3 linked regions of the Homo sapiens genome follow. The protein of the gene in region 3 purifies or fractionates together with the protein of the main gene of each other region. This does not show direct contact. Each region holds a gene or a part of one and is shown on either strand. Other genes may lie near its edges.

Region 1 (3,851 bases), on a different chromosome or scaffold from region 3:
AAATAAACAAATAAAATAAAGGGATGGGGCATTGGGCTGCCAGGGCCGAGGTATCAGTGGCTGGAGCTGAGTGCGTGGGAGAGCCCGGGGCCTGGGATGTTACCCAGAGGAGCACCCCTCTCCTTCCCCCAACTCCAGCCCCCACCTCCTCCCCACAGTCCACTCTGCTCCCACAATTATGGTGTGGCCTGCTACAGTCAACATTAGAAAATAAAATAGTGCATTGAGAGGAGGAGCTTTTGCATAAATAAAGTTCTCTTTTATTTCTTAAAAAAAAAAAAAAGAAAGAAAGAAAAAGAAAAAGAAACTGCAGGGTCTTCTTGCTGCCGATGGACTGAAGTGTGAAAGTCTTACTGAGCAGGGAGTTCTGGCCAGCTGGTTTCCATCTTCCCTCCCCTCCACGCACCCTGCATTCCTCCTAATGCCGCCAGGGGCCTGCACAGCTTCCCCTCCCAACTCCCTCTCAGCCTCCCTCCACTGGGCCTCGCACACGCGGGCCCCCTGGCTGGAGCCCTTAACGCCCCCTCCCCAGCTCCTCTCATCCCCAGCTCCTCTCATCCCCAGCTCTGCGCCTACCAGGCAGGTCCTCTCCTGCTCACAACTCCCTCTCTCCTCCTTGCCTGCAGTTTCCTGAGGTTTTTTTTTAAATCCTGCTGCCACTCTAGACTGATCGCCCTGAGAGCAGGGACCCATCTATCTTATCCCCCAGTGGATCCCTGGTACCAACACGTGGCTGCATTCAGTCGTTATTTGGTCAATGAATGAGTGAGTAAGTGAATGACTGAAAGCAAGAATCAAAGCAATGGCTATGAAAGAGGTGGGTCCGGCACTGAACCTGGGTCTTGGGTCCCCACCGACCCTCCTGCGGCCCAAGTCTGCACCTGCCCGAGTGCAGCCAAGGCTCCTGCCAGCCTCTGCCCCCAGCCCTCCCTGTCCACCTGCCTCAGCGAGCTCCTTCCTGCTGCCGGTGCCTCCAGGAAACCCTCCCACCTGGAAGCACAGATGTCTGCGCTGCTCTCTGAACCCTGGACAGTCAGCCTGGCCTAGTTACGTGGCCGTGTGAGGGCCACCTGCCCAGGGCCCAGGCCTGCCCTCTGCAGACACAGCTGGGACGCCATCTGTGGTCACTGCAGTGGGTGTCTGGCACCCCTGCCTGGTGAGGGCCGAGGGCTGCCTCCCTCTGACCTGGGCCCTCCAGCTGCTGCCACACAGGGCCAAGGGGGCAGGACTTACACCGTAGCTTCTCATCCAGGGTTCCCCGTGAGGTCACCGACAGCGCCTGGATGAACTCGGAGAACTCAATTCGCCCGTCCTGACAGGAGAGAGAGGGGATTGCCTCAGTCAGTGCCGGCCAGGCCACCGGGTCAGGCTGAACCTCGGGACGGGCGAGGGGCAGTCGCAGGCTCCAGACACTGTGGCCAATGGACACTCAGGTGGAGAGGGCAGGCTCGAAGGAATGGGGGGCGAGAGGCAAGGAGAGGGTGGGGAGCAGAGGCTGGGGGACTGTGTGGGGGGTTAGAAGTGGGAGAGGCCAGGAGGGAGGCACAGGAAGAAGGACTGAGGCTGAACGGAGAGGCTTACTCCACTCTTGATGGGAGAAGGTGCCAGAAGCACCAATGCCTGAGCTCCTCTCAGCAACAGCCCGGAAGCCCCTCGGCCTAGAGCTGTGGGCTCATGGGCTTTTGCAGAGGAAAGGCCGCTGCAGGTTGTTTAATTCCACCTCTTATTTGCAAATGAAGAAACCGAGGCCCAAGAAGGGAAGAGCCCTTCCCAGGGTCAGGCATGTGACTCCCAGCCTGGGGGCACCTGGGAGAAGCTGGGGATGGGATAGAATAGAAACCTCCACGGTGCCAGCAGCAGGGGGTACAGAGACAAGTGGCAGTAAATCCACCCTCAAATGCTACTGCAGGACAGAATCAGGGTCATCGCAGATAACCCAACAGCTATCCGTGCAGCCACTGCCCGGAGGTGACACAAGCTACCACATGGTAAGTCTTGAAAACATGATGCTCAGTGGAAAACGCCAGGAACAAAAGATCCTATAGCCTACGATTCTCAGAGCCTCAGTTTCCTGACCTACAAAATGGGTATTAAAATACCCAGCTCCCAGGTGCTTGTAAGGCCTCATTAAAAATAATCCATGTATGGCCGGGCAAGGGGGCTTACACCTGAAATCCCAGCACTTTGGGAGACCAAGGTGGGTGGATCATCTGAGGTCAGGAGTTCAAGACCAGCCTGGGCAATACGGTGAAACCCCATCTCTACTAAAAATACAAAAATTAGCCAGGTGTGGTGACGGCGCCTGTAATCCCAGCTTCTCAGGAGGCTGAGGCAGGGGAATTGCTTGAATCTGGGAGGCAGAGGTTGCAGTGAATTGAGACTGCACCACTGCACTCCAGCCTCGGCAACAGAGCAAGACTCTGTCTCAAAAAAAAAAAAAATCCATGTAAAGAGCTTAAACATAGTAAATGTTCAGGAAATATTGGTTATTATTATTAATCCTGTTATTATCATGGGAGGTATTTGCATTTTATGCTTGTAAGAGAAGTGTCAGGGTGTACATGTGTATACATGCATGTGTGTTGTGCACTGTATACATATGCATATGTGTATATGTCTCTCTGTGTGTACACGTGTGTGCACCTGCAAGTCCATGCATTGTGTGCATATGTGTGCATTTCTGTGCACTGTATGAATATACATGTATGTTCACGTGTGTGGCTGCATCTCCATGTATGTGTGCCCACATGTGTGCATGGTATTCGCCTGCATGTGCACATACACGTCTGTGTGAGAGCTTGGATGTGCATGTCAGTACATGTGTGGGTGTACATATGTGTGCACACATGTGCATGCATTTGGATGCATCTGTGTTTATTGTGTGTCTGCATGTGTACATGTGCATGCATTTATGTGCGACTATGTATCTGTGCATGTCAGTATGCACTCGTGTGTGTGTTCCTTCTCTAGAAGGGAACATCGGCAGGAGAGAGTGGGTGTGGAGACGCTGCGGGTACCCACAGGAGCTGAGCCAGCTGCCGCAGGCCCCATCAATCCCCAGCTCACCTTGTTTTCATCAAAGACGTTGAAAACAAATGTGGCAAACTTGGTGGGGTCTCCGAACGGGAAGAATTGCTTGTAGATCTTCTGGAAGCCTGCCGCATCCAGCTGCCCACTGGGGCAGTCCTTGATGAAGCCTTTGTACCTGGAGGCAGCAGACCGGGCCAGAGAGGGTAAAGGAGACGCCAACATCACCCACCCACCACCAACATCGCCTGCCCGGGGCCCAGGAAAGCTGTGGCTCCTTGTTCAAAGAGATGGTGCCCCATGGGGCCATGGACTTGATAGGCACAGGCGCAGTCCCACCTCTGCCTCTCACTAGCAGTGTGACCTTGGATACAGACTTCACCTCTCCTAGCCTCGTCTGCATAAGGGGGTTACGAACTGACATAGGAATTAACCCAGATACTGCACACAGAGTGAGCACTTGGCCACCCAGCCCTGTGCTCCACCCAAGGGGGCTAAAACAAGAGTCACATGAATGGCCTCCCCAAAGCCGCATGCCTGCACAAGACCCTCCCACCTCCCCACCTTCTCTGCTGAGCCCCTCCTGGCATCAGGCTGGGTGGGCTGCTGCTGGTGCTGGTGGGTAGACCACCATATGGAGCCAGCAGGTGGCTCCTCCCACATGCCCACACCCTGCCCCTCAGTCTCTGTTCCCAGGGAACTGGGTAAACAGCATGGGGGGATCCTGGCTGTTCCAACTGGACTTGTCCACCCTGCAGTCCCAGTGCCCAGCACAAAACCCTCCAGATCCCTACGTGGCTGACGCCGGAATGGCTTTGCACTCC
Region 2 (2,845 bases), on a different chromosome or scaffold from region 3:
CCACTTTCAGGCTGCGATGAGGGGCGATCTTGGTGAGATCACCATGTTCCTCAAAGATTTTGGAGACACCTATGTAGGAGAGAGTCTTCTTCAGGTCGAAGGTGCCCGTCATGTGGAGTCTGGGTACAGACACGTCTACGACCCTGGGGAATTGACACGACAAGGGTGAGTGGTCAAGTCCTGTTGTGTTGCAGGGCAAGCCTCAGGATACATGACCAATGAAACATGTGTCCTCCCAGCCCCAAAGGTCTCCAATCTCTCTCCATCCACAGAATGAGGAGGGGCTCCTTAACCCTGGGACCCTGGTTTCAAAACACCATAAGCTCTCTGAACCGTGTCCCTGCCTCCCAGCACACCTGCCCCAGAGCCCTCTACAGGGAGTGTTCTCAAGTCTCAAGTTCCCCCGTCTCAGAGCCCCTTCAGCCACAGTCACTGATGATGTCCACACTGTAGTCGCTGCCATGCCTGAGCCCTGAGCCCATCCTGACCCCAGAAGACCTGACACTGGAGGGAACAAGGCACCCAGAATCTGGAGGTAGACAGAACTGAGTTCAAATCCACTCTGCCTCTCATGAGCTCTGTGACCTTCCCTCTCTAAGTCACTTGTGTGAGAAGGAAAATGATCACCGTCGCTCCTGCGGGACACTAGGGGTGCTAAGGCAAATGCAGACAAGGCACTCAGCAGACAGTTGGTGCGTAGCAGGTGCCCATCCTCCTGCCCTCCAACTAGCAGCTTCACATCCTCTGTGGCTGAACCGCGATCAGCCTCCTGCCCGGAGCCTGGGGCCCAGGCTCTCCTGAGGTACCTGCAGACCCTGGATTCCCGTTCACCTGGCCTTGCACCCTATTTTCCCACCTACCCAAGGATCTCATTCCTGCCTATGTGTCCTCTCTCTCCTGCATCATCCTTAAACAGTGCCCCTTTGATCCTCCTCTGGAGGAGGCCTCATGCTAGAGTGACCCTATCCTCAAAAACTAACACCAAGAGATCTCTCTTGGCCCTGAATAGCCTCTCCAGCTTCCAGCTCATTTCTTTTCTTCCTTTTATAGCAGCTATCTCCACTCCCTCCCACAATTGCCTCAGTCCACTCCAGTCGGCTCTTTGACCTCAACTTTTTATGGAAGCAACTCTTTCCAGAGTCACCGTTGACAACCAGCCCCACGTCCCAGAGCCAGCTCTCAGTGAGCCGCACGTGATGGTAATCCCTTTCTCCAAGGTGAAGCATTCCAGGTCCACCCCTTGAGGCTTCTCCTCCTTCCCCACCACTCCTGCCCCTGTCGGGCTCCACCCCTCCCATCTCTACCGGTGACACTGCTGCTTCCAGGCTCAGACCTTGGTCCCCTTCTCTTTTCCACCTTCACTCCATCCCCATACATGTCATTCAGTCTCACAGCTTTGAATATCATCAACAGGCCCAACGACTCCCAAATTTACCTTTCCACTCATTCATTCACTCAACAAACATTTATTAAATCTCTACTGTATACCAGGTGCTGTTCTAGGTGCTGGAGATGCATCTATGAACAGAGCAGGCAAAGATCCCTGCCCCTGACTGTGTGTTCTAGCAGGGAAGACAGGTGATAGAATCAACACAACAAAAAGTACCACTTAAGCCTACATACATGTACTAGCGGTATGCAGAAGGCAGTAAGTGCTATGGAAAAAAATAAATAGATTGACTTGCAGGAATCGAGGATTGGTCCAAAGTTTGAGCAAACCTTGAGGCAGGCAAGAGAGTTAGACAAATTGGGGTTTTTTTTCCTGAATAAAATGGGGAGTCACTGTCGGGTTTTGAACAGAGGAGTGACATAGTCTTGCTTAGGATTTAAAAGGATCATTCTGTTGCCTCTGTTAAGAATATACTCTTGGTGGTGGTGGTGTGTGTAGTGGGGATGGGCAAAAATTGATGCTGGGAGACCATTTGGAAGCTAGTGTGGTAGTCACATGTTGGGAGCCACAGAGACGGCGGAAAGATACCAAATTCCAGATGTGGTTTGCTGTAGGCTAAAGGAGTTTCCTGACAGACTGAATGAGGCATTTGAGGGTGGTCAGGGTGACTCCAAGGTTTTTGGCTTGAGCAACTAAAAAGATGGAGTCACCACTGATTGAGATGGGCAGGCTTGGGGAGGTTCTCTGGGGACAGATCAGGAAGTCATTCTGGATGTGTTGACACTAAGCTCCAATTACACATCCTGGGGACATTCTGGGTAAACAGAAAGATCCACGACTCTGGAATTTGGGGGAGAACAGGGGCTGGGGATGGAAGCATGGCAGTCGTGGTAATAGAGATGGTGTTTAAAGCTCTTAGCCTGTGAGCTCACTCAGGGGTAAGTATAGACAGAAAAGAAGGCTGGGAACTGAGCCCTGAGACACTCACCTCTGAGACCTGGAGGAGGAGAGGGGTCTCCAGCAAAGGAGATTGAGGAGGGGAGAGGTGGGAGGTGATGTGAGAGTGGAGAGCTGGAAGCCAAATGAAGAGTGCCTTAAGGAGGTGGGGACAGAAACCAGCCGAAGAGCGAGGCCTGAGACTGACTGCACTCTGCAACACAGACACCCTTGGGACCCTGGGAAGGGAGCTTTCTGTGAGAAGTGGGTGCAGAAGCTGGACTGGAGTGGATTTAGGAGAGGATGAGAGGAACTAGGGGCTGTGAACAGAGGCAACTGCTTCATGGTATTCACCTGCAAAGGGGGAGTGACGAAATGGAGGAATAACTGGGGGAAAGCAGAGGTCAAGAGAAGCTTTTATGTTGGGAAAAATAATAGCATTGAGATTTCCTGCAGGCCAGCACAAGCCATACAGGCCTGCCTGCACAGAAGGCAGACACCTGCTTTGTCTTCTTGCAT
Region 3 (3,500 bases):
TTCACTTTCATTCACACTGCTCCCTACGCATGAGAAAGACCAGATGTCTGGTTTCCAGAGTATTAAGCTTTTTCCTTAATACTTCTTAATTTTTTTTCAAGTTTAAAGAAAAACTGTAGCTTCTTCTGATCTTTAGCATTCTACAGTTTAATAATTTCATATACCAGAAGTGTTTCTGCAGAAAATGAGCTTTGAATATTTATGCATTTGCAACAGTCCACAAACGGCTTTGGAAAAAATTATTTGACTTTCATTTTGAAAACTCCATTTTTCTAAAAAAAAACCATAAATTCATAGTTTTCATGGAGAAGAGTGGTGGAGTACAATGGAGCATATGGAAAGAACACTGAATTTGGAGAGAAAGGTATGAATAGATGACATTTCCTTTTCCTTGTCTGATTCCTACTAATTGTAGAAAAAATATACATTATATATGGTATTCCTCCCTTCTTAACAGAAAACAATGTTTGGAAATTCCTGTGTAAAGCTAATTTGCCATGAGGAACATAAAGCCCATTAATGGGATATCCAGGTCCCTATGGGAATTTTTTTTTTTTTTTTAAACAGACACCATGTGGTGCAATCTGTTACAGTCTACAAGGTGGGGGTGGGGAGGGGAGCTCTGCAGGGGCCAGGAATAAAGTCATCTCTGGGAGTTTTTGAGGTATTAACAAAAATGGGAAAAACACTACAGCAGGAGCCTTGGAAATGCCTTCCCTTCTGCCCTCGATCGTAACCCAGGGTGTATTACGTTTATGCTTTTCAAAAATTATTTAGCAAGTTCTCAGTTTTAGGGAGAAAAAAACCTGAACCTTTTCTGAGATGGTTAGATTGCCATTTGTTTTGTATTTTTATCTAACCCACTGGTGATTTAATTTACAGATCTCAAAGGAAGTGCATGCTCAAATATTTGAGGATGTTAATGTATCAACCACTGTGTAATTTTGGAATTTGCCTACTCGCTTGACACAATATTTTACCATCTAACAAATGTTTAGCCTTTTTTTCACTTGACTAAAGAGAAGTAAGTTTCACATTGCTTCATTCACCTTCTTATGTGCATATGCTGGGAAAGATTGGATGTTAAAAAAAAAAACAACTTCCTCATGTTCCTTTCTACTACATCTAAATCTGTTTACCAATTCAAAGCTGCTAAAAAAACCTGCATTCTCCTGCTAAATCAACTGGATGGCTAGAAACCAAACTGTAATGTAACAGAAAAAAATTATCAATTTATTTTCATGACAGAACATTCTTGAGAAGGTATAAAATTGTTCTGGTTGCTATGCCAGTTTTCTTTTTTCTTCCTTCCTCTGTCTTCTTTTTTCAAAGGCTTTTAGCTTTTAAGCTGATACTTTTTATAGTTATATAACAGTTCTAATATTTTGTGACATTTTGTATTGTGACACTATAGATGAAATTGTCATCGGACTGACACCCTGTGCTGTTTATTCCTTAATTACAACTGTTAACACTGTAGAGAAGTGTGCTAATCTGCCAGCACATATTATGAAAACAACATTATTGTTACCCACACCAACACCCACTCAACAGGATATTTCCAAGATGGTAGTTTAAAGGAACTTATCGGCACAACGGACGTTTCAATATAGTTGTTGTTGTTGCTGTGTATTTAGCTTTTCCTATTGTCTTCTTTTAAAAACATAAACCAGTTTGAAATTTAAAACATTTCATTGTAATATAGCATAGGTACCCTTTACTAGCAGAGGCTGCCTCTATAGCTGGAAAGTTATATATACATATTTTTTTTTTCTTTTTTTTTTTTAAGTGCTCAAGCAGTGGTGGACTGAGGAATCTCAAAGCTGTTTAGGGTTGTGACCCAACGCTTTCTGACTGACAGTTTTTTCAGGAATAATGAAATTAGAAGGAAGCGGGAAGGGGAAGTTTAAAGATGAAAAGACAAGAGTGGGGTTATTTGCATTCACAAGGTTGGCAATCTTTAAATAACCAAGTCAAAATCCAATAACCTTTCCCAGCTCTAAAAGGCATCCTTTTTCAAAACCAAGTCTGAGTCTTCCTGAAACTGGCTACTTATTGACTGCTTTATAGTTCAGTTCTTTCTGTCTCCAGAACTTGCAGAGCTTTGGCTATCTGTGAGGGACAAAATCCTATGAATTTATTTTCTCATAAGTTATTTTGCTAGAGCAGTTTAGGTGTCATTGTCTTTTAATTTGTTAAAAGAAACAATAATGGTTTAAAAAAAAAAAAGAACCATGTTGATCCTATACCTTGTCCCTAAAAAGTAAGGATTCTAAAAAACTTAACTTAAAACCAGAACCAAGATACCTGCTTAGAGGAGAATGATTGTAAATTTTTTTTTTTTTAAAGCAACACACTCACAACACTGACAATAATTTAATTAATAAAGAGTCCACCTTTTAATATTCGTGTTTAACACATCTATGGGTTTGGTAGAAAGCAAATTCATGACCTTGAAATAGTAGTAGGTGATAACATGTGACTTGCCAGTAAATTCTCATATCTTCACTGTCACTTAGGAGATAATCGAAGAATATGAACATATTTAATTCCTAAAGTTCCTGCAATAACCTACATACACCTTAACATTCAGCTTTATTAAACAGGCTTTTTGAAATAGCATGTGAAGAAGTTATCGCTGTGCCTCATTTTGAATGGTATTTTCTGCTTCATTTTGATTTTCAACAGCAAAAGGATATGGTGCTCTTCCTAAAAGAAACTGTTCCCATTTGGGAATATATTCTTCTACTGATGCCCAGTAACGAGTCTGGAAAAAAAAATCCAAAAGTAAAAAAGCATATCAAGCAATTGAACTTGGCTCTTCATAATAGTCTAAATGTTTATTCACTTAAGAGTGTGTATGCGTGTATACACACACACACACACACACATATATGTAGAATGCATTTCCTCTACAGAATATTTTATGTTAATTTTAGAAAAAAATCTGGCTACTTACTAGTGTTAATTTTCAAATTTCTCAGTAAAACCAGAGCCTGGCAGAATTACAGGTTTTAGAATTTTATTGTGATTTTACACGCCCTCTTGTGGCCAACTTCATGATTATTGCTAATAGTATCATTTATGGTGATATAATCATTAAATGTTTTTGTTTAATATTCCAAATCCCATACCAAATGATTACCCCATACTGAAATTATTACAATGAAATTATCAAACATAAATCATGCTTCAGGATTAACATCAAAAGATTTGACCTGGGATGAGATCAGGAACTGAAATACAACTAGTGTGTTATAGTACAGGAATTAGAGATATTGGACCCTTAATTGTGTAGGAAATATATATCCACTATAATTTTTCCCCATTTTTGTGATGACAAAATGTCAATATAATTTAACCATTTTTAATACAAATAGCTTGGAAGTTGAGATGCTGTATTATTGGTCTGACTGTAGAAGTCTATAGGCTTTAGAAGCTCATGAAACATTGCTGTGTTGTGTCTAGCTTTGGTTTCTTGGGTGACTGCCCTAGGGAGG

What was found.
Region 1: the proteins of CEP15 (region 3) and NCS1 purify together in Homo sapiens (affinity purification with mass spectrometry; one large-scale study listed by BioGRID and IntAct). This does not show direct contact.
Region 2: the proteins of CEP15 (region 3) and SERPINA12 purify together in Homo sapiens (affinity purification with mass spectrometry; one large-scale study listed by BioGRID and IntAct). This does not show direct contact.

Annotation. Positions count from the first base shown.
Region 1 is NC_000009.12:130,217,186-130,221,036, reverse strand, and holds part of NCS1 (neuronal calcium sensor 1), read right to left. Parts: intron 3,206-3,851; coding exon 3,067-3,205; intron 1,313-3,066; coding exon 1,234-1,312; intron 1-1,233. UniProt on the Homo sapiens protein: Neuronal calcium sensor, regulator of G protein-coupled receptor phosphorylation in a calcium dependent manner. Directly regulates GRK1 (RHOK), but not GRK2 to GRK5. Can substitute for calmodulin. Stimulates PI4KB kinase activity.
Region 2 is NC_000014.9:94,489,625-94,492,469, forward strand, and holds part of SERPINA12 (serpin A12 precursor), read right to left. Parts: intron 144-2,845; coding exon 1-143. UniProt on the Homo sapiens protein: Adipokine that modulates insulin action by specifically inhibiting its target protease KLK7 in white adipose tissues.
Region 3 is NC_000003.12:62,332,522-62,336,021, reverse strand, and holds part of CEP15 (centrosomal protein 15), read right to left. Parts: intron 2,768-3,500; coding exon 2,633-2,767; 3' UTR 1-2,632. UniProt on the Homo sapiens protein: May play a role in ciliary assembly.